Linked DNA regions of Homo sapiens. The main gene of each other region encodes a partner of the protein of the gene in region 3 in a complex. Each region holds a gene or a part of one and is shown on either strand. Other genes may lie near its edges.

What was found.
Region 1: CDC40 (region 3) and RNF113A share a complex: the UniProt entries of both Homo sapiens proteins name them as parts of the pre-catalytic and catalytic spliceosome complex.
Region 2: CDC40 (region 3) and SNRNP40 share a complex: the UniProt entries of both Homo sapiens proteins name them as parts of the postcatalytic spliceosome P complex.
Region 4: CDC40 (region 3) and BCAS2 share a complex: the UniProt entries of both Homo sapiens proteins name them as parts of the postcatalytic spliceosome P complex.

The regions. Positions count from the first base shown.
Region 1 is NC_000023.11:119,869,972-119,876,198, forward strand, and holds RNF113A (E3 ubiquitin-protein ligase RNF113A), read right to left. Parts: upstream 1,763-6,227; 5' UTR 1,643-1,762; coding exon 611-1,642; 3' UTR 504-610; downstream 1-503. Other genes in the region: NDUFA1 (NADH dehydrogenase [ubiquinone] 1 alpha subcomplex subunit 1), read left to right, coding at 1,941-2,042, 3,333-3,422. UniProt on the Homo sapiens protein: Required for pre-mRNA splicing as component of the spliceosome. As a component of the minor spliceosome, involved in the splicing of U12-type introns in pre-mRNAs. E3 ubiquitin-protein ligase that catalyzes the transfer of ubiquitin onto target proteins.
Region 2 is NC_000001.11:31,293,774-31,301,727, forward strand, and holds the start of SNRNP40 (U5 small nuclear ribonucleoprotein 40 kDa protein), read right to left. Parts: upstream 3,016-7,954; 5' UTR 2,979-3,015; coding exon 2,838-2,978; intron 1-2,837. Other genes in the region: ZCCHC17 (zinc finger CCHC domain-containing protein 17), read left to right, coding at 3,309-3,440. UniProt on the Homo sapiens protein: Required for pre-mRNA splicing as component of the activated spliceosome. Component of the U5 small nuclear ribonucleoprotein (snRNP) complex and the U4/U6-U5 tri-snRNP complex, building blocks of the spliceosome.
Region 3 is NC_000006.12:110,225,404-110,232,427, reverse strand, and holds the end of CDC40 (pre-mRNA-processing factor 17), read right to left. Parts: intron 6,262-7,024; coding exon 6,185-6,261; intron 3,597-6,184; coding exon 3,452-3,596; intron 2,475-3,451; coding exon 2,297-2,474; 3' UTR 196-2,296; downstream 1-195. UniProt on the Homo sapiens protein: Required for pre-mRNA splicing as component of the activated spliceosome. Plays an important role in embryonic brain development; this function does not require proline isomerization.
Region 4 is NC_000001.11:114,578,598-114,586,420, forward strand, and holds the start of BCAS2 (pre-mRNA-splicing factor SPF27), read right to left. Parts: upstream 3,019-7,823; 5' UTR 2,995-3,018; coding exon 2,902-2,994; intron 2,795-2,901; coding exon 2,702-2,794; intron 1-2,701. Other genes in the region: DENND2C (DENN domain-containing protein 2C), read right to left, coding at 7,003-7,034. UniProt on the Homo sapiens protein: Required for pre-mRNA splicing as component of the activated spliceosome. Component of the PRP19-CDC5L complex that forms an integral part of the spliceosome and is required for activating pre-mRNA splicing.

The DNA.
Region 1 (6,227 bases), on a different chromosome or scaffold from region 3:
GCGGGAGGCTGAGGCAGGGGAATCGCTTGAACCGGGGAGGCGGAGGTTGCAGTGAGCTGAGATCGCGCCACTGCACTCTAGCCTGGGCAAGAGAGCGAGACTCCGTCTCAAAAACAAATAAATAAATAAATAACCAAGACAGCAAGGAACATTTCCCATATGTGAAGCCTGTGGTGCTAGCTACCAGTTCCCCAAACACAACCCCTCTCCCCAACACCTTGGCTCGGGTATATTTTGTAGTACAGGCTCCCAAGAGAAAGAATGCATGAAAGTACTTTGTAAACTATTAAGTGATACAGAAATGTGATATAATAAACAGGCTCAGAGGTCTTGCTTTCATCATGGCTTTGGTTACTTCGAGCAAATTATAGCTCTTTTCTCAAACTACTCCCACCCCTATAATTTATGCCAAAGTGTTCTGAAAAGAAACACAGGCAAAATGGTTATCCTAGGGCTAAAAATCCTGATTATACCTACCTTGAAGCTTTTAATCCAGGACCCTACTTCACCACCCGCCTGCTCTGTCACTTTCTCTACAAAGGAAGGACACGAAGTAAGACTTCCAAAAGAACAAAACGTTTATTTTTTAAATTTAAGAATTATGGGAAACCTAAGTAATGGGAATTGCATCCTCATCGGGGTCTTCTGGCAAGTCGGAAGCACCACCCTCTCCTGTAGCTCGATGCTTCTCTAGTTTAGCAATCAATTCTTTCGCTGGATTGAAGACGCCATTGGTCTGCTGGTCACAGACATAGCAGCGCGGGGTGGTGCGGAAATGCTGCAGTGCACAGCTCTCGCAGAAATAATGCCTGCACTTGGTGACAACTGGGTTTTGGAAGCTCTGGCGACAGATGAAACACTTGAATGGTATTTCCTCATCATCGCTTCCCACTTCATAGTTTTCATCCTCATAGACACCATAGCGACCCTCATCAAGCTCACGTTCGATCTGCCACCCATGCTTGTAATCTGAACGGTCATGGAGGAATTTGCAGCTGTCTCCGAAGCCGCAGAAGCCAGTCTCTTTGTAGTCCTTACAGATGTCGGGCTGGTAATCCCAGCGCACGGTGGCACGTAGATGCTCGGGCGCTCGGATGGGGCCCTTCCTCACCATCCCGGAAGAGGCATTGCCCATAGACGTATCCTTGGGCTTCATGTATTTCTGATAATTGTTGATTCCCCGATAGATCTTGTCATCCTCCTTGCCCCTCAGCTCCTCCTGGATCTTCTGGCTGCGCTCAAAGATGGCTTGTGCATCGCGCTCTTTCTCTGTGTCCAGCTCATAGACAGCTGTCGCTCCCATATCCTCTGGTCCCACGGGTTTCGCCGAACGGGTGGATTTATAAACCACGCCGAGACTCTCGGGCTCATTTTCCTCTTCCTCTTCGCTGCTCAAGTCGCCGTAAGCCGCCTTCTGTTTACCACTGTCACGGGTCTTCTGTATCATTGGATTGTGGGTCACCCGCTTCTTTTCCGGTCGAACCACAGTGCAGCCTTCGTCGCTACTGCTGCCGCTTTCTCCGGGCTCTGGGTCGCAGGCCGGGCGCTTTCTGCGTCCAGCAGCCCCTTTCCGCCCAGGCTTTTTGAAAAGGAAGGTGCACACCTGATCCACCGCCTTTCCTGGAGAAAGCTGCTCTGCCATTTTAGAGTCCTGAGCTCCGAAACAGCCGTGGCTGCCTGGGTTGCACTTGGCCCCTGCACGTCACTCCACGTTGCGCGCTCCGCCGGGAGTCGAAGCAAAAGACACTGACGGAAGAGGACTGCGAGAGCCCGAGCGCCCGTCTCTCTTGTGCCCTAGCAGATTCCGTCGCTTCTTCCGGAGCCGTACGTGGCACCGCCCCGCTCGCGGGCGGCCGCGGGGCTTGCTGGGAAGAGAGGCGAAGCCAGGTCACCTTTCAAGGACCCAGAAGTAGGGTTTTGGCCTAGGTAACGGGGCAGAGATGTGGTTCGAGATTCTCCCCGGACTCTCCGTCATGGGCGTGTGCTTGTTGATTCCAGGACTGGCTACTGCGTACATCCACAGGTTCACTAACGGGGGCAAGGTAAGCCGGCTTCGGCCCGGGGGCCGACTCCACGGGCTGATTTCCGAAAAGGGTGGTGGGCAGGGAGACCGTCAGCCTGCGAACCCTCTCTCCGAGGTCGGCCCTCTACTTGCTTCCGGTTGCCTAGAAGCCGAGGCTTGCGAAACGAAGCCCGATAGAAACTACATCCTGCTCTAGTGAAAAACAGCGTTTCTGGGTGTATCAGAGTGGGCCTTAGGGCAGAGTAGCGACGCGGGGGCCGGGAAGGTAGATTAGAAAAGGTGGCTCAAGCCTGAGAATCGCTCACTGCAACCTCCGCCTTCTGGGTTCAAGAGATTCTCCTGGTTGGGCGCGGTGGATCACGCCTGTAATCCCAGCACTTTGGGAGACCGAGGCGAGCGGATCACCTGAGGTCGGGAGTTCGATACCAGCCTGACCAACATGGAGAAACCCCGTCTCTCCTAAAAATACAAAATTAGCTGGGCGTGGTGGCGCATGCCTGTAATCCCAGCTACTCGGGAGGCTGAGGCAGGAGAATCACTTGAACCCAGGAGGCGGAGGTTGCGATGAGCCGAGATCGCGCCACTGCACTCCAGCCTGGGCAACAAGAGCGAAACTCCGTCTCAAAAAAAAATAAATAAAGAAAGAAATTTTCCTGCTTCAGCCTCCCGAGTAGCCGGGACCACGCCTGGCTTTTTTTTTTTTTTTGTAGAGGCGGGGTTTCATCATGTTGGCGAGGCTGGTCTCGAACTTCTGACCTCGGTTGATCCACCCGCCTTGATCTCCCAAAGTGCTGGGATTACAGGCGTGAGCCGCCGCGACCGGCCACCCTTGACTTTTTTATTCCCCACTTTCTCTTGCAAGCCTTTAGGAATTTACTGCGAGATCTTGTTTTTTTACATCAGGATTCATTTTCCCCTCTTCCTAGTCCTTCACATCATCTCAAGAGTACAGGATATAAATTTATTTACTTTTTGATTTTGTTATTGTTCTTCACGTGTGATCTACAGCTGTTGTTTCTTAGTGTCCCAAAAGACAACAACTAGATATTTCTTTTTTTTTTTTTTTAAAAAAAAAGGAAAAAAAATTCATGTTGGTTAAAATAGTGTAAAAAGTCACAGGTACCAACTTAATCCTAAAGTTTAGTGGTCTGATTTTATTTAGGAGATTCTGTTCTTTGTACTACTAATTTGCATTTTTATTTAAACGATGATTCCATTTCTCTGGAATGTCCCTTTTAAAAATTGTAGTATCTATCAATTGGGTCACTCACTTTTATAAACTGCAACAATAATTGTCTCTTATTTGAAGGAAAAAAGGGTTGCTCATTTTGGGTATCACTGGAGTCTGATGGAAAGAGATAGGCGCATCTCTGGAGTTGATCGTTACTATGTGTCAAAGGTAAGATGCCACTCTGATGCCAGCCTTTTGCCAGGGTTGAGGTGGGTTCTGGTAATGCCTTGCCAAGGGTCATACAGTGCTAATATATAACTAGCATTTTCTTATCTACTAGTGAGGTTGGCATCTTTTTACATATTTAATCTTTTATATTTCTTTTTTTTTTTTAGTTTTTCTTCTGTCATATATTTCTTATTCTGTGGATTGTTGCCTATATCCTTTGCCTGTTCCATTGTCTTTTTCTTTTTGAGCTATGGTTCTTTATATATTCTAGACTTTAATTTTTTTGTCTATTTTATATATGACATTTTTCCCAGTCTGCTGTTTGTCTTTTTTACTTTATGATGTTTTTCATCAGGTAGTTCTAAATTTTGATATTCAATGTATCATGTTTTGTTGTTCTGGATTCTAGGTTTTTATGTCTCCCGTACAAAGGCCTTTTCTATCTAAGATTATAAAAATACTTTCAAAAAATAAAATAGAGACAGTCTTGCTGTGTTGCCCAGGCTGGCCCTCAAACTCATAGGCTCAAGTGATCTTCTTGCCTCAGCCTTCGGAGGAGCTGGGACTGCAGGTGTGCCACTATACCTGGCTCATAAAAATACTTTTAAAAAATAATTTCTCCTAATATTGTTAGTTTCTTTAAAAAATTAGTTATTTGGTTACATCTACAGGTCATTTTGGAGTATAATGTGAAAGGAGGATTAACTTTACTTTTTTCCAACAGGTAGCTAGTTATCGCAATTACCCATTTATAGAAGAGTTTAGTAGTCCTAGCTACTCAGAAGGCTGAGGCAGGAGGACAGCTTGAGCCCAGGGGTTTGAGGCTCCAGTGAACTAGGATCGTACCACTGCACTCCAGCCCGGGCGAGAGAATGAGAGCCTGTCTCAAAAAAAAAAAAAAAAAAAACCACCAAGCACCCAATTTATTTTTATTTGTAATACCACTCTGGTAAACTAAATTTCCATGTACACATGGGCCTGTTTCACGGATGTGCTTTTCTATACTCTAGGTCTGCCTATTCCTGCAACAATACTTCATTTAAAGAATTACTATAATTTTATATTTTGATTCAATTATGACATTGCCATTTTTGTAGGTCAAAAACGACCAAGCAGTAGCATTTCATAAGGCTCAACTTAATAGTATATTTTTTGTTTTTCTGTCTTTTTTTTTGTTTTTTGAGACAAGGTCTCACGCTGTCACTCAGTCTGGAGTGCAGTGGTGCAATCTTGGCTCACTGCAACCCCCGCCTCCCGGGTTCAAGCGATTCTTGTGCCTCAGCCTCCTGAGTAGCTGGGATTACAGGCACCTGCCACCATGCCCAGCTAAATTTTTTTTTGTACTTTTTGGTAGAGATGGAGTTTCACCATGTTGGCCAGGCTGGTTTCCTAACTCCTGACCTCAAGTGATCCGCCCACCTCAACCTCCCAAAGTGTTAGGATTACAGGCGTGAGCCCCTACTCCTGGCCCTAATAGTATGTTTTTATATTTTGTAGGAGTAGTTCATTCTCATACTTCTTTTAAAAATGTTTACTTTTTAATATTTTCTCCTTCCTCATTTATTCCTCACAACAAACCTAAGTAAATAGTATTTCCATTTTATAGACAAGGGTCAGAGTGATTAAGTAATATTATAAGGACTCAACCTGGGTGATACACCTCTCAGTAGAGAGGTAGTTGAGAATCTAATCCAATGAACATGATAATAGATATCTACTTATCTGGAGCCATATTTCTCAAAGTATGGTCCAAGAATAACCATCAGAATCACCTAGCATGTGAGACAGAATTAGGATTTCTAAGAGATGGCTCCAAGGAAGATACAGTTTTAACTTCTCTTAAGGCAGTTCTTCCTGTAATAGTAAACCAAATACCTGGACTATGTTATTTAATACCTAGAAGAAGTGTCATCACTGATGAGTCTTTTTTTTTTTTTTTTTTTTTTTTTGAGACGGAGTCTTGCTCTGTCGCCTAGGCCGGAGTGCAGTGGAATGATCTTGGCTCACTGCAAGCTCCACCCACCAGGTTCAAGCAATTCTCCTGCCTCAGCCTCACGAGTAGCTGGGATTACAGGTGCGCTGTAATTTTTGTACTTTTAGTAGAGACAGGGTTTCACCATCTTGGCCAGGCTGATCTTGAACTCCTGACCTCATGATCCACCCACCTCGGCCTCCCAAAGTGCTGGGATTACAGGCGTGAGCCACCACGCCAGGTGTAATCTTTTAATTTATAGCTTCTGAAGTATTTGGTTGTCAACTTAGTAAGATCCAGTAGGTATTTTGAATAGATAGTGTAGTGCTTGTCAGAGAAGGGTTCGGGAGTTGGGGTCCCTGAATTCTGGCTCTGCTAATTCCTTATGGACTTAAGCAGGTGACTTTTAACCTCTCTGAGCCTCCATTTCCTCATTTGTAAAAAAAATGGAATGAGAATAATAGTATCTACCTCATGTTGGCTGTTATTTTTTAAAACAGATTTTACCTTCTTGTCCTCTGACTCACTGAGGTGCTTTGTAAAAGGATCCAGGTGGAGGCCAGGCATAGTGGCTCACACCTGTAATCCTAGCACTTTGGGAGGCCGAGGCAGGTGGATCCCCTGAGGTCGGGAGTTCTAGACCAGCTTGGCCAACATGGCGAAACCCCTTCTCTACTAAAAATACAAAAATCAGCTGGGCATGGTGGCACATGCCTTTAATCCTAGCTACTTGGGAGGCTGAGGAAGGAGAATTGCTTGAACCTGGGAGATGCAGGTTGCAGTGAGGCAAGATCGCATCACTGCACTCCAGCCTGCATGACGGGAGTGAGACT
Region 2 (7,954 bases), on a different chromosome or scaffold from region 3:
GTCTTGCTACGTTGCCTAGGCTGGTCTCAAAATCCTGGCCTCCCTCCTTGGCCTCCCAAAGCACTAAGATTATAGGAATGAGCCACCACATTTGGCCTGGCTCATTTAACAAATGATGGAACTGACTTTCCCAACAACTCTGCTTGGTATGGAGTACTGGGTGAAATAGTTTTGTTTTATTTTTAATTTTTTTTGTGTGTTTTGAGACAGAGTTTTGCTCTGTCACCCAGGCTGGAGTGCAGTGGTGTGATCTCGGCTCACTGCAACCTATGCTTTCTGGGTTCAAGGGATCTGGTGCCTCAGCCTCCCGAGCAGCCAAGATTACAGGCATGCACAACCACGCCCGGCTAATTTTTGTATTTTTAGTAGAGATGGGGTTTCACCATGTTGGCCAGGCTGGTCTCAAACTCCTGGCCTCATGTGATCTGCCTGCCTTGGCCTCCCAGAGTGCTGGGATTATAGGCATGAGCCACTGCACCTGGCCTATTTTTATTTCTTATTTTTTCATAGCAAACGGATCCTCAGCATGGGTGAAGTAGTTTTGATTATGGTCTTGGACACCAAGATGACACTTGGGCAATTCATCTAAACATGGGCTGATATGCTCACTTGTCAAATGGGAGAAGTATACTACCCATAATCCCCAAATCTCTTCAGTACTTCCCAGCATTTTCATATTTATTTATTTATTTATTTATTTTTTGGGGAAGGAGTCTTGCTCTGTTGCCCAGGCTGGAGTACAATGGCGTGATCTCGTCTCATCGCAAACTCCGCCTCCTGGGTTCAAGCGATTCTCCTGCATCAGCCTCCCGAGTGGCTGGGATTACAGGCACCCACCACCAAGCCCGGCCAGATTCATTTAGTTTTAAAAAATGTTATGTGCAGGCTGGGCGCGGTGGCTCACACCTGTAATCCCAGCACTTTGGGAGGCTGAGGTGGGCGGATCACTTGAGGTCAAAAGTTTGAGACCAGCCTGACCAACATGGTGAAACTCCGTCTCTACTAAAAATATACAAAAATTAGCCAGGCATGGTGGCGGGCGCCTGTAATTCCAGCCACTCAGGAGGCTGAGGCAGGAGAATCGCTTGAACCCGGGTGGCGGAGGTTGCGGTGCACCGAGATTGCGCCACTCCACTCCAGCCTGGGTGACAAGAGCAAAATTCCATCTTAAAAAAAAAAAAAAGAAGTTACGTGCTAGGCACTGGGCAAACAGCAATGAACAAAATAAACAATGGAGCTCGCTGTTCCAGTGGGAAAGGGGGAAGGGAGAAGGGAAGGTGAGAGAAAACAAGCAAACTATATATGTGGTGTCATGTGCTATAGAGCAAAAGAAGGGATGGGGATGGTGGCTCATGCCTGTAATCTCAGCATTTTGGGAGGCCAAGGTGTGCGGATTGCTTGAGCTCAGGAGTGAAATCCTGTCTCTACAAAAAAATACAATTAGTTAGATGTGGTGGTGTGTGTCTGTGGTCCCAGCTACTCAGGAGGCTGAGGCAGGAGGATCACTTGAGCCCAGGTGGTGGAGGCTGTACTGAGCCAGTGGTCAACACAGAGAGATTGTCTAAAAACAAAAAAACAAAAAAAGAGAGAGAGAGAAGCAATGTGGGTTCCACAGTATGTGGTACTGCAATTTAAAATAGGGTGGTCAGGAAAATCCTCACTGAAAAAATTACATTTGGGCAAATATTCGCAGGAGCTGAATAGTAAACCATGTAAACATTTGTGAAGAGCAATCCCACAGAGAGGACAGCAAATGCAAAGGTCCTGAAGCAGAGGCTTGGAAGAGAGAGTAACTGAAGCCAGGTGAGCAATAAGAAATTGGTCAGAGAGGTAAAGGGAAAGAGGGCAAATAATTACAAGAATTTTGGTTTTTACTCTGGATGAAGTACAAAGCCACCAGAAAGTTTTCTGCAGAGTGTAATGTGATCTGATGTTTAGAAGGATTCCTTTGGTTATTGGCTTGGTAACAGGTGCTGATACAAAGGTAGAAAGTGGAAGACCAGTTAGGGTCCCACTACAAAAATGCCAGATGAGATAATAATGGCTTAGGCCATGAGGCAATGATGGAGATGGTAGAAGTAGCAATTCTAGACCTATTTTGAGGACGGTGCCAGCAGGATTTATTGAGGAGATGTGAGGACACTCGTATTTCCTCGTCTGAGCCTAAACAGGACATTAGAAGTGTGATCACTATTTCTATCTTACAAAAAATGTAGTTAGGAGCATGGTTTCTCAGTTCGAAATCTGCTTCTATCACGTACTTGGTAAGTCTGTTTTTCCATCTGCAAAATGGGTTAATAACGTTCCTAACAGGCTGCTACCAAGATCAATGGAAATTTCATATACGAAACACTTTAGTACAAGAGTCAATGAATGTTAGCTGCTATTTAGTTGTTAATAATACTAGTGCAGAGAAATAAAGGGAAAAGCAACTTGCCCAAAGTCCCAAAACGAGCCAACACAAATCATTTCCCTTTTTTCTTCCCTCCCTCATTCATTCATTCTACACACTCTTCGGAATTTTTGTTCTATGCCAGATCCATGTTAGAGTCAGGATGCTTAAACCCGGGTCAGGGTTTTGAGCCCAAGGTCCTCAACTCTAATTCTAATGCTATCTCAGGGCAGTCGAGAGGCTGAAAACGGGCGCCAAACGGGGGAACACGTACGCAGCATTCGCAGGCTATGGGGAGCTTTTACAGTGTTTATGTGCTTTAACTCTGCGTAGAAACTCTCGTTCTGCCCCCGCAATGCGGGAAAGGGTCAGGGATCACCAGATACAGCGCTCTGAGGGGAGGAAGATGAGCTGAGGGCCAAAGGCCGCCTGCTTCTTCACTTACCGCTTGCAGCAAGGCTCCCGGCGTCGCCTGCTGCTGCCCGGCTCCTGGGCCAGACCCCGCTCCCAACAGCAACTCATGCCGCTGCCGCTTGACTGGAACCAGCGGCAACTCTGGGCCCTTACGCTTCTGCTGTTCTATCATGGCGGCAACCGGTCTCTTCAGCGCCGCCACTGACCGCGCTGCCGCTCTCAGGCGCCACGCAATTGGTTCCAAATTAGTCCTTCCTCCACAACTTCCAGCTTGGAAGAACCAATCGGCTTTCAATATTTCCATTTGCACCGCCCTCGGATAGTCTCTTGTTATTGGGCATATCTTTCTGACGTCATGAGAGTGCGATACCAGGATTGGTGGACGGAGCTGGCGACCGCCCTAGGCGCGCTGGGTCTTGTGGGTGGAAACGCGCTGGCTGACTGGGGTCGGCGTTTAGTTCAGCGCAGCGACTCGGGGACCTGGAGCTGACGCCTAGTACGTATGAGGAAGAACGGGGTGGGTGGCTGCCTGAGTCTGGAGGCGACGCCTCGGTTGTGCAGTCTGAACCTGCCCTTCTCAGCTGAGGGTGCTGACAGCAAGGGGTGGGAGGCGGGCCCCGAGTCCCCAGCTGTGGTAAGTAGTAGCCTGGGCTCCCTTTCGGGGCAGGAGCGGAGCCTTGGGGTCTCTGGCGGCAAGACCCAGCCCCTGCGGCTCCCTTCTTCAAGAGCGCCCATCGTGGCCAGTCCTGTGCCGGGCATTCCCAGGGAGAAAGGCCTGCGTCCCAGCCTCCTCCGGTGCCCCATTTGGCCGAGGAGGCTGACTTGTTTCTGCCACTGATTTTGCAGTTTTTGATCAGGGCCTACTGTATGCCCCCCTGAGAGAGACAGTGATGAAGGAAATGTCCGACTCCTTCTCCAGAGCACAGTCTTGTTGAGAAATTTGAGACTCATGCCCATGAACGTGGTCATTGCCTCAGTCGTCCTGCTGATATTCATTTAGCAGCGCGTTGGGGGTATGTTGTGAACCGGGCACGGTCCCTACTCTCAGGGCGTTTAACTCTGGTGGGGAAAACGTTAAACAATGACCTCACTAATACATGGAAATGCCTCCTACTGCTGCCTGATGCTATGAGTGCCTGAAATAAGCAGGAAGGTTTTTCAGAGGAAAAGATGCCTGCGCTGGTAGCTGCAGGAAGTGTTGTAATTAATTAGGTGAAGAAGTGAAGGCAGAACCTTCCATAGAGAACTACTTGTTCAGAGCCCTGAGGCACTTGGGAGGAAAATGACTAAAAGCACAAAGAGCCAGTGTGGCTGGTACAAAGAGAATGAAGGGAGTATGGTACAAGATGAAGCTGTACGTGATAGCGGTCAGACCTTGCAGGAATTTGTAGCTTTTATTTTAAAACGGATGAGATACCACTGAGCCGTCTTCCCCCAGTGGGGTGTGGTGGAGGAGGGGACTTGATCCCTCAGGCTCAGTGGTGTGAACAGACGGGGGTTGGGGAAGCCCTAGTCGATGTATGTGGACCACTTGGGATATGCAGTAATCCTGGTCAGAGATGTCAGTGAGGACTGAGATATGGGTGGAACTGCAGAGAATTGGACAGATTCTAGAGGTATATAGGAGGTAAAATGGGTGGGACTTGGTGATGGGTTGATTTTAGGGAGTGAAGAGAGGAATCAAAGGTAACTCCTAGGTTTCTGGCTTATGTAGTTGAATAGATGGTGGTACCATTCACTCACTATCACGGAATCCCTCAAGCTGGATAGGGAACACTAGAAGATGATTAGAGACCAGTTTTTTTTTGTTTTTTTTTTTTTTTTGAGACAGGTTCTTGCTCTGTCGCCCAGGCTGGAGTGTGGTGGTGCAACCTTGGCTCACTGCAACCTCCACCTCCCAGGTTCAAGCAATTCTCCTGCCTTAGCCTCCCCAGTAGCTGGGATTACAGGCGCCTCCACTGTGCCCGGCCAATTTTTGTATTTTTGGTGGAGATGGGGTTCCACCATATTGGCCAGGCTGGTCTCCAACTCCTGGCCTCAAGTGATCCACCTGCCTCAGCCTCCCAAAATTCTGGGATTACAGGCCTGAGCCACTGCTCCCAGCTGAGATCAGTTTTTATTGATTGATTGATTGATTGTGTGGGGTCATTCATGACATCCAAGAGGCAGTTTGAAATACAGCTTTGTGCTCAGAAGAGAGATTTGTGTTGGGAATATAAAATTGGGCATAATTTGTATATACATGAATTGAGCCATAGGTGTGGGTAAGGTCAGCTAAGTCAGAACCTTGACTAGTTCCAACATTTAATGGTGAAGAACAGGTGAACCTACAGGAGATACAGAAGAAAGGAAGGAGGACTGGAAGAATGTCTCAGAAGCAAAAGAATGATTTGTGATAGAAATTTCTAGAATTTAAATAACATGAAGATTGAAAAACATATTTTGGCTTTTATCATCATGGAGGTCACAGTAACCTTAGCAAGAGTTATTTTGTTGGTGTGATTGGGCCAAAAGCCAGATATGAGGCAAGGATTTGGACAAGAAAATGTAGGTAGTGAACCTACACAGTATTTTTCATAGATCTGATTGTAAAGAGGAGGAGAGGATGTGCTAACCGATGGGGATAAGGGATTATCCAGGATCCAGTTGAGGATCCAGTTTTGAGAAATTTGAGAATATTGTAGAAGATTTGAAAGTCACTGTGGAGTGTGGGAGAATGAGGTTACTAGAGAAATGTAGGATGCAAGGAAAAAAAAAATTTTTTTCCAGCATATCCAGCGGTTTAGTGCATGCATGGAGAAAACCTTTCTGGGTATGGCAAGGACATCGCTTGCTCAAGACACATTCTAACCTCTAATATGTCTTCTCTTCCTGAAAAATCTGGAAAACTAAAAACCATTTTCTTGACTCCCTTGCACCTAAGGTGAAAATTGAATTTGGAACTGAGTTAAATGTGGAAAGAAGGAGGGTGTGAGTCATCCAGTTTTGCTGCCAGTCATGGCAGTAAATTTCTCCAGTCAATAGCTCCCTGGTTTGGTGGCTTGCTGCAGTGATAGCCATAACTTTCCTGGATTGTGGCAAAGGTGGTATTATTTTGTGGGTTAGGTGTTGTTCCTGGAAGTTCTGCCAAAGTCTTTTATTGCAATACATCCCTTACTGCTTAAGTGGGTTCTGTTGTCTGCAACTGTCCCTGACCAGGTTAGAGGTACTGCCAGAGAGTTAAATATAAAGACAGAGTTAAAGGGAGTTTAGGGTGTTGTTGGAATGATGGGCTATGGAATCTAAGCTGGATTGGAAGAAAACTGAAGAAAAAGGGGAGGGCTGATAGATTGGAAGAAAATAGAGGCCAATAAATCAGGGTTCTAATGAGGTCAAAGAACAGTATTCTCTGCTAGAGGATTTCTGTTTATCCTAAAAGGCTTATTCAGTTATCTGTTTAACTTCTCTACTTCCCCCAGACCCTCTTTCTCTTCCTAGCTACTACTTTTGTTTGTTTGTTTTGAGACAGTCTTACTCTGTTGCCCAGGCCGATTGCAGTGGCATGATTATGGCTCACTGTAGCCTCGACCTCCCAGGCTCCAGTGATCCTCCCACCTCAGCCTCTCCAGTAGGTGGGATAACAGGTATGTGCCACCATGCCTGGCTAATTGTTGTATTTTTTATAGAGATAAGGTCTTGCCATGTTGTCCAGGCTGGTCTCAAACTCCTGGCCTCAAGTGATCTTGCTGCCTTGGTCTCCCAAAGTGCTACGATTATAGGCATAAGCCACCATGCCTGGCCCCCAAGCTTCTGCTTTAGCACTTATCACATTGCAGTGTAATTGGTGTTATTTTGTGGGTTAGGTGTTGTTCCTGGAAGTTCCGCCAAAGTCTGTTATTGCAATACATCCCTTTCTGCTTAAGTGGGTTCTGTTGTCTGCAACTGTCCCGGGCTAGGTTAGACATACTGCCAGATAGTTAAATATAAAGACAGAGTTAAAGGGAGTTTAGAGTGTTGTTGGAATGATGATATCTGATATCCCTATCAGATTAGGAGGTCTTTGAGAACAGGGACTGTGTTGAAAAGGGTGGTTTAGGCCGGGTGCTGTGGCTCACTCCTATAATCCCAGCACTTTGGGAGGCCGAGGCAGGTGGATCACCTGAGGTCAGGAGTTCGAGACCATCCTGACCAATATGGTGAAACCCTGTCTCTACTAAAAATATAAAAATCAGCTGGGCATGGTGGTGTGTGCCTGTAATCCCAGCTACTCGGGAGGCTGAGGCAGGAGAATCGCTTGAACCTGGGAGGAGGTTGCAGTGAGCTAAGATCGCGCCATTGCACTCTAGCCTGGGTGACAAGAACAAAACTCTGTCTCAAAAAAAAAAAAAGAAAAAAAAGGGTGGTTTAGTGGCAAGTGTGTGTGGCCCTTGGAATGGCCTAAGATTTGTCTCTTTCTTGCTGTGTTGTTTTGGACAAGTTATTTCATTCCTGTAAAATAGGATTACTTGCTTTGTAGAGGAGTTTTAGGGATTGAAAGCAGGTTTATAAAGTACCTTATATATAAACATCAATCAATAGCATACTGAATTGATGAATTAACAATTTAAATGGGGTAAAATTAAATACTTCACTATTTTAGTAGACAATTTCCATGTGTGTTACACTGTGCTAGGCACTGGAGATTTGGGGAGGAAGGATATGATGATGTGCAAGACAAAGGCATGCTTACAAGAGTTCCACACTCTACAAAGGGAGGAAAAAAATGTCCCTAAAAATGATTTGAATCCCATCCCCATCATTCATATTTTGCAATCTTGAGCGAGTTTACTTAGCTTCTCTTGTGTCCTCATTTTTAAAATGGCAATGATAATTGCCTGTTTTATGGGATAGTCAAGAAGAGAATTATTGAATGTCATGAAGATAAAATTTTAAAAAGAAAAATTAGTTAAGAGAAGTAAAGCTCTTAGATTAATACATGGCAGATATGAAGCACTCAAATATTAGCTATTATAAGACTTTGAAGGGATCTTAGGAATAATTGACTGAAAGTGTAGTGTCGAGTGGTAGAATAAGTGCTGATCCTGGGGTCTTATACCAATGTTGCTAACTGTGAGCAGCCTTTGTCAAATCACTTGGCTTCATTTTCAGTGGCCTAAGAGTAATAGGTTT
Region 3 (7,024 bases):
TGTTAATGTGCTCTGAGGGTACTGCCATGTATTTTATTATATAATTATAAACCCACTGATATACCTGAATAAACCACATCCACCTCTAAAGCATTATTTCTCTCCATATGACCCATTTAAAACTGCAAATGGCTTAATCTAGTGTCTCAATACACTTAAGACTCAAAAGGAGACTAAAGATGAACAAGATGAACATTTTGATAGCACTTTCTACAAAAAATGCTTTATTTAAAAATATGATCTTTTTAAAAAGGAGACTTTTATACACACTTACTTTAGAAACAGTCAAAAACACAACAGAATCAATCCAGATTTAGAAATGATGATTTGTAACATACAATATTGGTATGCTGAACAAGACAGTTTAAATGTATGATTCTTTTTGTCCCTTCACATTTCAATAATTCACATTTGTTAAAACTAGTGGTTGGGACTAAAGAAAAGGTCATATCTGAATCCTTTCCCCTTCAGAAATCTGTCACCCTTCTGGGCAGTTACAGAAATGGCAGCAGCTAGGCAATGTTTGTATTTCTTTGGGTGCCTCTGTGTCAAAAAATATATCTCCGCTTTTATTCTTTTTCTATGAAATTTATATTTATGTGGCTATAGGGCCTGGTCGTATGTCCCACGCCTTTTAAAATCTAAATTTCTAAAAACAGACACTCCGTAAGGGCAAGGAGCATACACTGCTATGACCTCACTGGACTCAGAGCTTAATGCTCTTAGGTTATCAGCAAGAGACATGATTTTGATCTTCCAGTTAGCACTCCAAGCTGCTATCAACCAACCTTTTTCAGCACGGTAGTGAAATATTTCAAACCATATTCAAACATCTAATATAGATTTATAATAAAACAGGAAAAATGGCTTGCCAAATTAAAGTGCTATGAGCTATTACATTCAAGAGGTTATCTTGATTTTATTTTTTGAGGTGGAGTCTCGCTCTGTCGCCCAGGCTGGAGTGCAGTGGCATGATCTCAGCTCACTGCAACCTCCACTCCTGGGTTCAAGCAATTCTCCCTGCCTCAGCCTTCTGAGTAGCTGGAATTACAGGCGCCAGCCACCAAGCCTGGCTAATTTTTGTGTTTTTAGTAGAGACGGGGTTTCACTATGTTGGCCAGGCTGGTCTTGAACTCCTGACCTCAGGTGATTCACCTGCCTCAGCCTCCCAAAGTGCTGGGATTACAGGCATGTGCCACCGCGTCCGGACTATCTTGATTTTATAATCTGATGTTTTCAAAAACTATTTTTCACCATGGCCACTGCTTCTCAAACTGGGGAACCCTAGCCATCTTCCAGGAGTGTCATTTTTTTTTTCAGACATAGAGGTTTAAAAATTTTTTAATCTTAAAAAGTTCTGTTGTATATATTCACAGGTAAAATAAGAATAATTTTAAAGATAAAACATATGACTTCAAAGAAATTACAAGTTGACATCTTGGACTCTACCCCTCGTACTTTATCTCCTATGAGGAGGATTTCAGTAATCACAGCTGCGAAGCAATGACCTAGGAGATCCTGATTTCTCAAAGCGTAGCCAGGTCTTTACTGACAGTGAATGTAAATACAATTCAAAGTCTTGGTGCATTCTCCTGAGCTCCATCTTCAGATATAATGTAATTCTCTGATTAAATATATATAGTCCTGTCTATACTGATCAGGAATTAAGTCAACAAAAGAACTCTGGACTGATTTTGATTTTTCACTGTTTATAATTAGAGGAATGCTACAGTTAAAGATTACTGCTTTACAACTAAAAATATACAACATATATCATCAAAGGGAGTGGAACTCATGAAGCCAAAAGATTAAAACTTGACCCAGTGAAAATAATAGGGAGAGTAACTGTGGGTGATTTTATCCTTCTTCCAAATTTACATTAAAATATATTATCCCTATTCTTTACTGCCCTTTTGGTTGAAGAGGTAAATACATGCATTTTTCTGAATAATTAATTATAACACCTCCTCTAGAATCCCAAATCCACTAGGGATTCTTTCTTGACCCCAAAGAGATGCTTTCAGTATGTCATGAGTATAAACTCAAACTGCTTGCCAATTATAACTACTTGTCAAATAGAAAGTCAATAGCCACTTTCTGTATAAATAACATTTATAAAAAACAAAATGAAGTTGCAAATGAAATTATGTCAAATTTACAGTTTCTTTTTTTAAACAAAGGGTCAATGTCATCAACATTATCTGTAAATCAAGTTATCATCAGATACATTTAATAATTAAATATAAATATGACAATGGATCAAAAATGATCCCAGCTAGTTTAAGGATTAATCTCATTAATCCCACAATTTAATGAGACCATCCCAACCACATGTTATGACCTTAGAAGTTTCATGAGGATGCCACACTGCACCTATACACACTTTATCATGAGCTTTAAATCGACTGTAGAGTTTTGTGGTCTTCCAGTCCCAAATGTTTAATTTTCCATTTCCATCTCCTGAAATCACATAACTATAATGGGAAGAAAGATAAATTCAAATTATTAAAATACCTTAAATTGGTAAGGCGAATGAGGAATAGGGACGTTATCTTTTCACGTTAACATTAAAAAAAAAATCCAATGCAAATATACAATACTCAGAATAAGATGGTAGAACATGAAGCAGTCTATAATTTGAAATTCTATTAAAAAAACCTCCCAACCAATCTAAGAGTAGAAAATTATTTTTAACTGGGAAGACTGGGAGTCCCAGGAGCCACAGTGAATGAGGTTACACAATCAGTCTCTAGATAGTCAGAAACAGAGACTGGAGAACCAATTCCACATATAGCTAGGGAACACCTTTAGATCTATTCTATCACAGTAGGCTCTAACACTTTCATAATTACTTTTTGGCTTTAATATCTTTTGAATACATCTAAGACTGAATCAGAGGTAGGCCCAATTACTAGGCTAAACAAACAAAGTTACTGGGATTTCTAAATTACTTCTGCCTATACATTTTAACTAAGAACCATGCTGTAGGCTTCACAAATCCAGTGTGACCTAGAAATATTCAAAAGCTGGATTTGAGGTTTCAGCACAGACAAGCTGTAGTGAAGCTGTAACTGCAACACTGTAATACACAATTAATTCTTCTGGTGTTCATTCAATCATAGCAATACAGTGATTATAGCACTTCTAGTCTTGCTTAGAAAAGCAGAGAAAATAAGGCATTGGTTATATAGACAGGGATTTATTAGGTGGCTAAAGGGCATAAGCCTAAGTAATAGAAGGGAATATACTGAAGCAAGAACCTAAAAAAAGCAAAATGTAATTTTCCTAATTTGTTCTTGCCTTTATATCCAGCATTTTGACAATTTTGACAGATCATCGAGTTCTCATAAAAACATATTATGTGAGAGTGATGTGTCAAGTGTTATTTGTACAACAACAGTTTATATAATCATATTTGAATACGAGAATGGATTAGAAGATTTAAACTTACCTCATGTCTGGTGAAAAGTCCACCTGACAAGCATAGCCTGCTACCATATGGCCCTTAAAAATTTTTTTCTTATTTAATCTAAATCTGTTCTGTGCTCCAAAAATTAAGATTTGGTTGTCCATTGATTGGCATGCTAGCCATTTTCCTGTAAATTCAATAAATGAGGTATTTTAGAGGAAGACTAAAACAATTTTTAAAACTTTTTATTTTAAATATGTTCACTGTGATTAATATAAGTTTTGCTCCCAAATACTTTATAATACTAAAAAATAAATTTACTATACCACCTGTAAAATGTTATAAATATGTCACTGGCAAGAGGTATTAATATATAAACTAATGGCTTTTGCATATACGATCCTATATCATTGAGCACTCTCATATAAAAGTTTTTAAAAAAATAAGGAAATATAGAAATTCCAAGCTTAATGTTAAAGAAATAAGCTAAAAGTTGTGAAATGAAATTAATTTATAGTAAGTATAGACAACAGAACTATGGGAAATAGGAGAAAGAGACTTATCTGTGGTAATTACAGAATAAAGAAAGATTAAGGGGTGAGAAAGCCTAGGGTTATTAAATAAAACTATACAAAAAAAGATATATTAAAAATTATAGTAACTTTTTAAAAGGCTACAATGCTTTTCTCTACTTAGGATTCATCAAAGCCCCTAGAGCCTAAACTGCAGCGTCTATAGTCATGCACCACTTAACAATGTTTTGGTCAATGATGGACCGCACGTATGACAGTGGTCCCATAAGATTATAGTGCTAAATTTTAACTGTACCTTTTCTATGCTGAGATTTTACTGTACCTTTTCTATGTTTAGATACACAAATGCTTACCACTGACTACATTATTCAGAACAGCAACATGCCATACAGGGGTAAAGCCTAGGAGCAACAGGCTATACCATACAGCCTAGGGTAAGTAGACTATACCATCTAGGTTTGTGTAAGTACTCTGTGTGATGTTCACAAAATGACAAAATCACCTAACACTGCATTTCTCAGAAGTACCCTTGTTGTTAGGAATGCATGACTATACTTGCATCCTATATATAGTCATCCCTTGGTATCTGTTGGGAATTGGTTCCAGGATCTGCACCCCTACCCAATACCAAAATTCACAGATGCTCAAGTCCCTTATATAAAATGGCATAGTATTTGCATATAACCTACATATCTCCTGTATACATTAAATCACCTCTCGATTACTTATAATGCCTAATGCAACGTAAATGCTTTGTACCTAGTTGTTATGCTGTGTTGTTTTTAATTGTTGTATTGTTATTTTTTATTGTTTATTTTGTTGAATATTCTGGATTCGTGCTGGTTGAATCCCAGGATATGGTGCTCATGGATACAAAGGGCCAACTGTACATGTAAACATTACTTACTAAGGAAACAGACTTAAATAATGCCTGAGTGGGTAAATGGCCTTGTTCAAGATGGGCACAAAATCTGTAATAGGTGGTTTAAAAATACGCTACATGAAATATAGATGCACAGTGACGAAGTATATAATCTAGCAATGATCAAAAAAAGGTTCAGTTAGGTTTCTCTTCTCATAAAAATGATAGAGCATTTGACAACTATTACCATTTGCTTGTGTCAGAGGCCCTGATGGAACAGCAAATTCTTCCTTGCCCTACACTTGGAGTTAATTATGTGAATTGACAGTGGTTTCAATGACAAGGTCCCCCAAACATCAGAACTCCCACTTTAAGACTCTCATGTAAAGCTATAATTACATCAGTATATTGTCAGTATATCTGTAGCACAAATTATCTTGTACGTAAAAGACAATGGATTAAACAATATTAAATAGATTTATCTTCTTAATTTTTGCCTGAGAAAATCTTTTATAGTGAATTGCTAAAGTGTTCTCTCATTATGGAGAATCAGACCAAAACTTCCTATCCCCTGAAAGAGTTTACAGTAAATCACTATTACTATTTTTTTTTTTAGAGAGAAGGGTCTTGCTCTGTTGCCCAGGCTGGAGTACAGTCACATGATCATAGTCAATCTCCTGGCTCAACCAAACTGCCCATCTCAGCCTGACCAAGTAGCTAGGGCTACAAATGTGCACCACCATGCCAGCTGATTTTTAAAATTTTATTTTGTAGAGATGAGGTCTCTCTATGTTGCCCAGGCTAGTCTCAAACTCTTGGGTTCAAGTGATTCTTCTGCCTTGGCCAAATCATTATTAAATGATTTACTGAACGTGATTCTGTTTGGAAGGAGAATTAGAAAAGAAAACTCTGGCCGGGCATAGTGGCTTAGGCCTGTAATCCCAGCACCTTGGGAGGCTGAGGAGGGAAGATCACTTGAGCCCAGGAGTTTGAGACTAGCCTGGGCAACAAAGGGAGACCCTGTCTCGAAAAGAAGAAAAGAAAAGAAAAGAGGGGAGGGGAGAGGAGAGGAGGGGAGAGGAGGGGAAAAGAAAAAAGAAAAGAAAACTGATTGTTAAATAAAAATCTGATGTTCAATCAATGTTAGCTGTAAATCATTGTTTCTTTTATTTTTATTTAAAAAGAGACACAGAAAAGTAGGTGAGGTGACTTGCATATGAAAACCAGTAATTCTTTCTAATATTGTAAAGATTACCTTATACAAATAATGGCACAGTGACAAACTTCCCCAAGAAGGAAGGGGCCAAAGTTCTTTTGAATAAAGAAATCACACTGTATCTTAGAAGCTCATTTAAAAATACAATCTACATACTAACTCACCATTTGGAGACAAAGTCACTGCAGGCATTGAGTGCATACTGGGTTCTGCTATGTACTTGAAATCCACAGGGATATCCCTAAAAATTTTAAATAGCATATCAGAATAAGCAACTTTTAAAAAGTACCTTCAGAATTATCTCTGGAACAAAGGAATAATATGCAAATAAAAGCAAACTCTTGATATTATATATTTAATAAATCTTTCATGAAACTTTCTGGAAGAAGAAAAATCACAAGATGACACTGTACTGCTTATGGTAAATCCTGTACTTCATAAATCACTTTCCATGATCATTATAACAGTGGTGGTGATTTTGTTTTCTATTTCATTTAAACTTTGGCCTTTATGTTAAAAAATCTGTTACTGAAAGAAAGTTCTTTAATAATGTACCATGGTGATGGATACACTAAAATCTCAGAATTCACCACTATATAATTCATCCATGTAACCAAAACCCACTTTTACTCCAAAAGCTGTTGAAATAAAACCAAAAATTAAATTAAAAATGTACCATGGTAGGGTGAAGCAAGATGTCTGAGGTAAGCCTATGGGGAAGTGTTATTTACTGGCTAGCCTACCTTAACTTGAGGAGGTGAGAGTGTTAAACAGCCTGCAGCAATGCAGGTGGATGGCAGGCAAAGCTGTAGGGATCTGTGAGCTGATCTAGCCCATCCAGAAATGATGATAAATGATGATAAATAAATGCTTGGTACCTGGACTATCTTCAGTTTACATGTAAAGCATTTCAAATGTGTTTGGTGAAGGAGAAAAAACATAAAAAAAAAAAAAAAACCTCATGTGAGTGATGAAAGAATGAAAAAAAAATTAAAAAGTAGCCA
Region 4 (7,823 bases), on a different chromosome or scaffold from region 3:
GAGGCCTTCCTCAACCACCCAACCTGGAGTCGCCCAGTCACTTTATCACTATCATTCTCTGTGCAGCATTTATCAACAATTTTTCTGATCTATTTATTGTCTGTCTCAACACTCTAGATTTTAAGGTTCATGAGTATGGACCCTGCCGATACTGTTCTCCAATACCCAGAATGGAACAGACCTTCGTAAATAGTTGTTAAATGAATTAATGAAAGAGTAATTTCAGAGGCAGTTTGAAGAACAGTTAAGGTCTTAGTCAATTAGCCTCTCTAAGCTGCAGTTTTCCCAGCTAAAAAATGGGGATAGCAAACATAGTTATATAGTTTATAGAGCTGTTATGTGCACCAAGTAAGACAGTGAACCCAGTAAATATTACCAACTATTACTAAGAAAGGATGCCAGGTGTGGTGGCTCACACCTGTAATCTCAGCACTTTGGGAGGCCGAGGCAGGTGATTCACTTGAGGTCAGGAGTTCGAGACCAGCCTGGCCACAATGGTGAAACCACGTTTCTACTAAAAATACAAAAATTAGTTGGGCATGGTAGTGCGTGCCTGTAATCCCAACTACTTGGGAGGCTGAGGCAGAAGAATGGCTTGAACCCAGGAGGCAGAGGTTGCAGTGAGCCGAGGAGTTGCACTCCAGCCTGGGCACCAGAGCAAGACTCTGTCTCAAAAAAAGAAAGGATTAAATAATCAGTAAACTAATTACAGGAGAATCACTTGAACCTGGGAGTTTACTAATTAAATCATCAGTAAACTAATTACAAAGGTATTTAAGAGAGAAGGAAAAAAACTGGCAAAAGTATTTTAAAAAGTCTGTGATTGAATGCAGTTATCTGAAACCTTCAGAAATCAGTCCAATAAGGAAGCATTACTGTACTTAGTTCTTAATGTGGTTAACATCTACACCTAGGTACAAATATTTAGAAAAAGCATAGGAAAACACGTTCATAGGAACATACGTCTTCTACTTAAAACTCAGCCAAGGCTGGGCATGGTGGCTTACACCTGTATCCCAACACTTTGGGAGGCTGAGGTGGGTGGATCACTTGAGGCCAGGAGTTCAAGACCAGCCTGGCCAACATGGTAAAATCCCGTCTCTACTGAAAATACAAAAATTACCCAGGCATGGTGGCAGGCACCTGCAATCCCAGCTACTCGGGAGGCTGAGGCAGGAGAATCACTTGAGCCCGGAAGGTGGAGGTTGCAGTGAGCAGAGATGGCACCACTGCACTCCAGCCTGGGTGACGTAATGAGACTCCGTCTCAAACAAAAACAACAACAAACTTAACTAACAATTTTTTCATGTTACTTTAATGTAAATAATATCTTTTTTTTTTTTTTTCCCTTTGAGACAGGGTCTCACTCTATTGCCAGGCTGGAGTGCAATGGCATTATCATGGCTCACTGTAGCAGTCTTGAACTCCCAGGCTCAAGTGATCCTCCCACCTTGGCCTCCTGAGTAGCTGGGGCTACAGGTGCATGCCATCATGCCTGGCTAACTTTTTAATTTTTCTTTTGTAGAGAAAGGGTCTCACTATGTTGCCCAGGCTGGTCTCAAGTGATCCTCACACCTCAGCCTCCTAAAGTGCTGGGATTACAGGTGTGAGCCACCACACCCAGCTAAATACTGCCTTTTAATAATACAATCCTTTCATAAATAAACGATTAGGTATAATGGGAAAAAATCCTCCAAGCTGTACATACTGAAATACTTGAATCCAATAATTTAGAAATGATATCTTACATTTCATTTAGCTAACTAGACCCTAACTAGAATCCTGGGTGTACTTCAAGGTTATACATTTAAAATAGTATCATACTCAATGTGTGGAGTAGAACAGCATCTGACTCCTTAGGCAATCATGGACACTCCCTTCTCTAATCCTCTTGTCCTTATACATACCCTCCGCTATAGGTCCTTTACATATTATTACACATTTATACATACTATTGTAAACTTTTTGTTTTATATATCTAGCTCCTCACTGTATTGTATTTTTCTGTATTCAGAAACCCTATCTTTTTTGGAGAGGATGTTTGTCTTAAATAAAGAAAAGAAAAATTAAAAGAAAACAAAATATATTAAAAAAGAAACCCCATATATCTCTATGATCTCAGAATCTAGAATGGCACCTAGCACTTGTAAAGTATTCATATCAGTGAAAATTATTGCCTACATTAATCAGAAATGTGTTAATAAAAACATCGGATAGATTACAGAAAAAAGGAGAAGGCTGAGAAAAAAGTAGTATACACTTGGATATGGTTTGTCCTTTCAGTCGTATCACATACATTTGGTAAATAACTAGACTTTAATATGCCACTCTCCAGTGGTTCTAAAGAGCTTAGGTAATTAGGCTTATACATATTAAAAAACCCTAGATCACTTGCTGTAGAGTGAATCTTGGCAGGAGAGGGTCCCTTTGAGAATTTACGCATGGATCCTATCTCAAAGAATGGTAGCCACAAATTTTTGCATTAAGTGAGTTGTGGAGCCCCAGAAAGTCTTCCTATGGATCTTAGAATAAGAACCTCGGAGAAGACTTATCTATCTAGTTGTTTTCAATAGACTGACACCTATACAGTAGGTAAGTAGTAGCTATGCAGGCAATGGTTAAAACTGGAATTTAAAGCTCTCAATCCAAAATAAAGGTTCACAGGAATTCTCGTTCACACCTAGGCTCAAGACATACTTACTTCAAAGGCAGAATAATCCGGGGCTGTCAGGTAGCTCAGGTAGTTCTTAGTAGGTCGGTATCTGCGAGTTTCCTCCTCCACCAGCGCTGCAGCCTAAGAAAGAGAATAGGGACCAGGGTAGAAGTGGCAAATTGTAACATGTTTCTTTCAGTACCGAGCCAGCTAGCAGTGAGTCAGCTACAAAGACACCCCGCACTCACCGCTTCCCGCACACCAGGGGCTTCATAACCTTGATCAAAATACGGCAGCGCATCCACCACAACCTCTCCAGCCACCAAACCTGTGCCCGCCATTCTGAGGACCTCAGGTTTGCCTGCGTTTTCTGCGTCTGCGTAAACTCAGTTATATTTAATTACGCCGGCGCCTGACACTGATGTAATCACGTTCCCTCCGTATTGACGTTAGTGCATGCTCAGTTGCTAATTTTGAAGGCGGGTCCGCCCGGTATCTAGAAATTGCCGGGCTGGTTTGTTTTGGGCGGACGTGACGTAACGTCTTGGCTTGTCTGCGTCAGCGAAAGGCCTCAATTTCCTGTCCTCTGCTTACTGCCCCTTTTTTTGCCTGCGAATGGCGGCGATTTGAAGTTGGGGCTTTTCGTTTCCTCCAAAACATTGATATCTGGAAAGGGAGCCCCTTAACACTTTTGGAGGGAACTGGCTGCAGCATTTGGCGGGGAGAGATAAACTGGTTTCCCACCTCTGCTTACTCCCACCTTCTCCCCTTAATCTTCTCTTCCTCTGTGCGAGACTTTTTTCCTTTTTTATTGTAGACACAGGGTCTTTGTTCTGCTGCCCAGGTTGGAGTGCAGTGGCGTGATCATAGCTCACTGCAGCCTCAACCCCCCGGGCCCAAGCGATCCTTCCACCTCAGCCTCCCGAGTAGCTGGGCCTAGAGGTGCACACCACCATGCCTGGCTAATTTTTAATTTTTTTTGTAGAGATGGAGCCTTTCTATGTTGCCAAGCCTAGCCTCGAACTCCTGGCCTCCCAAAATGTGGGGAATACAGGCGTGAGCCACTGCACCCCGGGTCATTCCTCTTTTACTTCCTTGCTGTACCCCAACTATCCTTCCCCCTCGGTGCCCTTAAAACCTTTGCATTGGGTAAGTACATTTTTTAAAGAGACTCTAGAATTGGGCGCCAGTCTCCAATTAAAATTGTGAAGCTTTATGGTCTGCGTATCAAAAGGAACCTCAGTTCCTTAAAAATCCTGTCATTTTGCCTTTAGGACTTAACGGTAATAGAATGGCATTCCTCACTGCCTCCGAACCACTCAAGCTGCTGCCCATGCACTCTCTTCTGCATGGCTCCTGGACTAAGCAGCCTCCCTTTGATTAAGCAGGTAAAAACCAAATAAAGTTGTCAGACTATATGCCCTGCCCAGTGTGCAGTCTAGACCCAGCCTTTGTCTGCCAAGAGCCTGGAAATGTTGACCTCCGTTATTAAGCCTGGTCAGTCTAAGACTAATTCTTATTACCGAAGTACCATTAGGTAAATGTGCTAGCTATAGATTTAAGTGACATAAAAGATCTTAAAGAATTCTCCAAGGGATCTGTGGGGGGTTTATGTATTTATTCATTAAAAGATCTGTAAACAACATTTTATACAAATCTTGATTCTTTTACAAAAATATCCAGAATTCCTAACACTTTACAGAAAACACAACAGACCTAAGGAAATGAAGCAGCTTCAGGCTGCGAGGATGAAGACACCATTGCTGAAGCAAAGGTCTCCTCCTAGAGGGATAGCCAGGATCCATCACAGTAAACCCTTTTACCCCCATTTTATAAACATCCAATTATTAACTGTTCCTGCTGGGTTGGAGTGTAAGAAGAGACCAAATGGAGAGATGTCTAGTAGAAGCCCCACTGGGGGTAACCTGCTTAACATTAAAAAAAAGACAGGCTCAGTTCTATTCCCTGGACCCACATCTGTAGGAATTATATTATACAGCACCAGTCTTAAATGGTGTTCTGCTTCAGATTCATGCATACCTGAATGGGTTGTAATGACAATACTGTACAAGTCAATAAACTGTATCACAATACAACTTACACAGTTTTGTAAGGTTGAATAAATACTTTCTGTGCCAGTTAAAACCATCAGCAGAAACTGAAGAAAACAAACTGACATTTGCTATAACATTAATCAATGAAAAGTGCACCATCTGAACTTGAATTTGCCCATGAGTTTGAAAACACACACACACACACACACACACACACACAGGCCGGGTGCAGTGACTCATGCCTGTAATCCCAGCACTTTGGGAGGCCAAGGTGGGTGGATCACCTGAGGTCAGGAGTTCGAGACCAGCCTGGCCAACATGGTGAAACCCCCGTCTCCACTAAAAGTACAAAATTAGCCAGGTGTGGTGGCGGGTGCCTATAATTCCAGCTACTCAGGAGGCTGAGGCAGGAGAATTGCTTGAAGCCGGGAGGCGGAGGTTGCAGTGAGCCGAGATCACACCATTGCACTCCAGCCTGGGCAAAAAGAGCGAAACTCCATCTCAAAAAAAAAAAAAAAAAACCGAAACAAAACACACACACACACACATACACACACAAAAAAAACACTGCACCATCACTGAAAACTTTCTCTTTCCAATCACTACTACTACTACTTTAGATATTAAAGGTCTGGATGACTAAGTGGTATATGTTCAAGGAATGTTCATATTTTGAGTCTAATTTAATTAGAGCAAAAATTTCAACATTTCTAGGGGAATAAAAAGAGTCTCATCTAGGCACCTATAAAGTTCCTTATCCTCAGAGCTGAAAAGTGGCTCTGGTACACTTAATAGAAAATTTTTATTAATAAAAGAAATAGCTATATAATCCTACTGAGATGAAATTTCCATCTGTAGGACTAACCAACTTTTTCTGTGTCCATAAAAGTCTTGGCTTCAGTTCTGTGTTGTACAACTTTGGGCAACGTATTTAACTTCTTTGAATTTGTTTTTTTCTTTTTTCTTTTCCTTTTTTCTTTTTTTTGAGATGGAGTCTCGCTCTGTCACCCTGGCTGGAATGCAGTGGCGCGATCTCGGCTCACTGCAACCTCTGCCTCCTGGGCTCAAGCGATTCTCATGGCTCAGCCTCCCGAGCAGCCAGGATTACAGGCACCTGCCACCACACCCAGCTAATTTTTTGTGTGTATTTTTAGTAGAGACAGAGTTTCACCATGTTGCCAGGCTGGTCTCGAACTCCTGACCTCAAATGATCCACTCGCCTTGGACTCCCATAGTGCTGGGATTACAGACGTGAGCCATAGCACCCAGCCTCAGTTTATTAGTAAAATGGAGATGCAAATATCTATCTCATAAGGTTGATTTAAGGATTGGTTGAGATGATATGCATACATATACCACAGTGCATGGCACATGGTGGACACTAAAAAATAAAGGTGGCTCCCATGCCCTTGAAAGGACATTTTCATATTAGCTATAATTTCACAAAGTTTAAATTTATTTACTTATTTTTAAAATGTTTTTGTAGAGATGGGATCTTGCTATGTTGCCCAGGCTAGTCTCAAACTCCCACCCTCAAACTCCTGCCTTAGCCTCCCAAAGTGGTGGAGATTACAGGTGTGAGCCACTGCATCCAGCCTCCACAAAGTTTAATGTTGACATGTGAGGCACAAGCAAACTACTCAAATGCCACATAATTTGGAGGAGGAGTTGCAAGATGTCTAATTTTATAAGGTACTTAATAACAGTACCTTATAATATTACAAGTAGGGCTTCCTCCTAAGTGAGATTCCCCTAGATATAATATAAGGCAAAACAATGGAGATATGTGATGAGTCTATTCCTTAGCCCAGGTCAAACAGCCCATGGGTTTAAAGGGGCCATGATAGTTCAGTGATGAGAATTATGTGTATAAGGCTAGTGTTCTCCATTTCCATCATGTCTCTCTACTACCTTAAACTCAGCATTTCTCTCATTATTCTCATCTTTGAGCTATTTTTTAAATGTAACAACAACAAGGCTTTTCCTTGTGAAACACAACTACTTTCACAGACAAAGCACAAAACAGAGAATGAGCCCAAGAATCACATAGAAAAGGCTGCTATAAAAAAAAAATGGAGACAGAGTAAAGATGGCATGGTGCCAGACCATTCCCAACAATTCTCCAGTGATTACTACAGCAGCAACAGGAGAATCCTCCTCTAACAGCCTGACTCGCTCTTTAACCTTTTAAAATTTCAAGAATTTTGTAGAATACTTCATGGGATCCTGACCCTTAGAAAAATATTTTCTTTGGCACTTTCTGTTGTATATTCAGGATGGAGACAATCAGAGATTTCATTTCTTTTGCAGAAATTTCATTTTGCTTCCTAAAGGGAAAGAAAAGTACAGTGAATGCTCAATTCATTTTTATTTATTGTACATTATTTGAGGTAAGGGATTAACAGGTCAGTCATTCAGAACAGCCCAAGAGTTAAGCTGACATCTCAAACTCAGTTGATGTGTTTAACCCCCAAAACAAAAACAAAAATGAACCCCAAACCCCATATGTCTAGTTAATTGTAGCGGCAGAAAAGAACTCAGACATCATGTAATCCAGTGGTTTTCAACCTTGACTATAGGTTAAAATCACCTGGCTTCTCCCCAGAGATTTCCTGGAGCCCAGGGGAAAATTTTTTTTAAGTTCTCTGGAAATTATAAAATGTAGTCAGAGCTGGGAACCACTGATCTAATCTAACCCCATTGTATAAAGATGAAATAACAGCCTAAGGCCTAATTTGTCCATGGTCTGTCAGCTAGTGAAGGACAGGGCCTAATTAGGGGGCATATATTTCAAAGACAAAATATAAATATCGTAGCATATAGGTTATTCATTATTTTAGGCTAGCCACACCCCTGTTCTCTTGTATCATACTAATTAACTATTACTGAAAAATCATAAATGTGTTTCTGTATGAAGTAGAAAATTAGAGACTTGTAAGAAATCCTCTTTTGCCTCAGAAGTCCCTCTAAACCAAGTGTTTTTAATCTGGAGTACCAAAGATAGACTTCATGGGGTATATGAGCAGCCTAAAATTATGTGCAAAATTTATTTATATGCTGTAAATACATTTTTCTGGGAAAAAGGACCATGGTTTTTATAAGATTCTCCAAGGAAT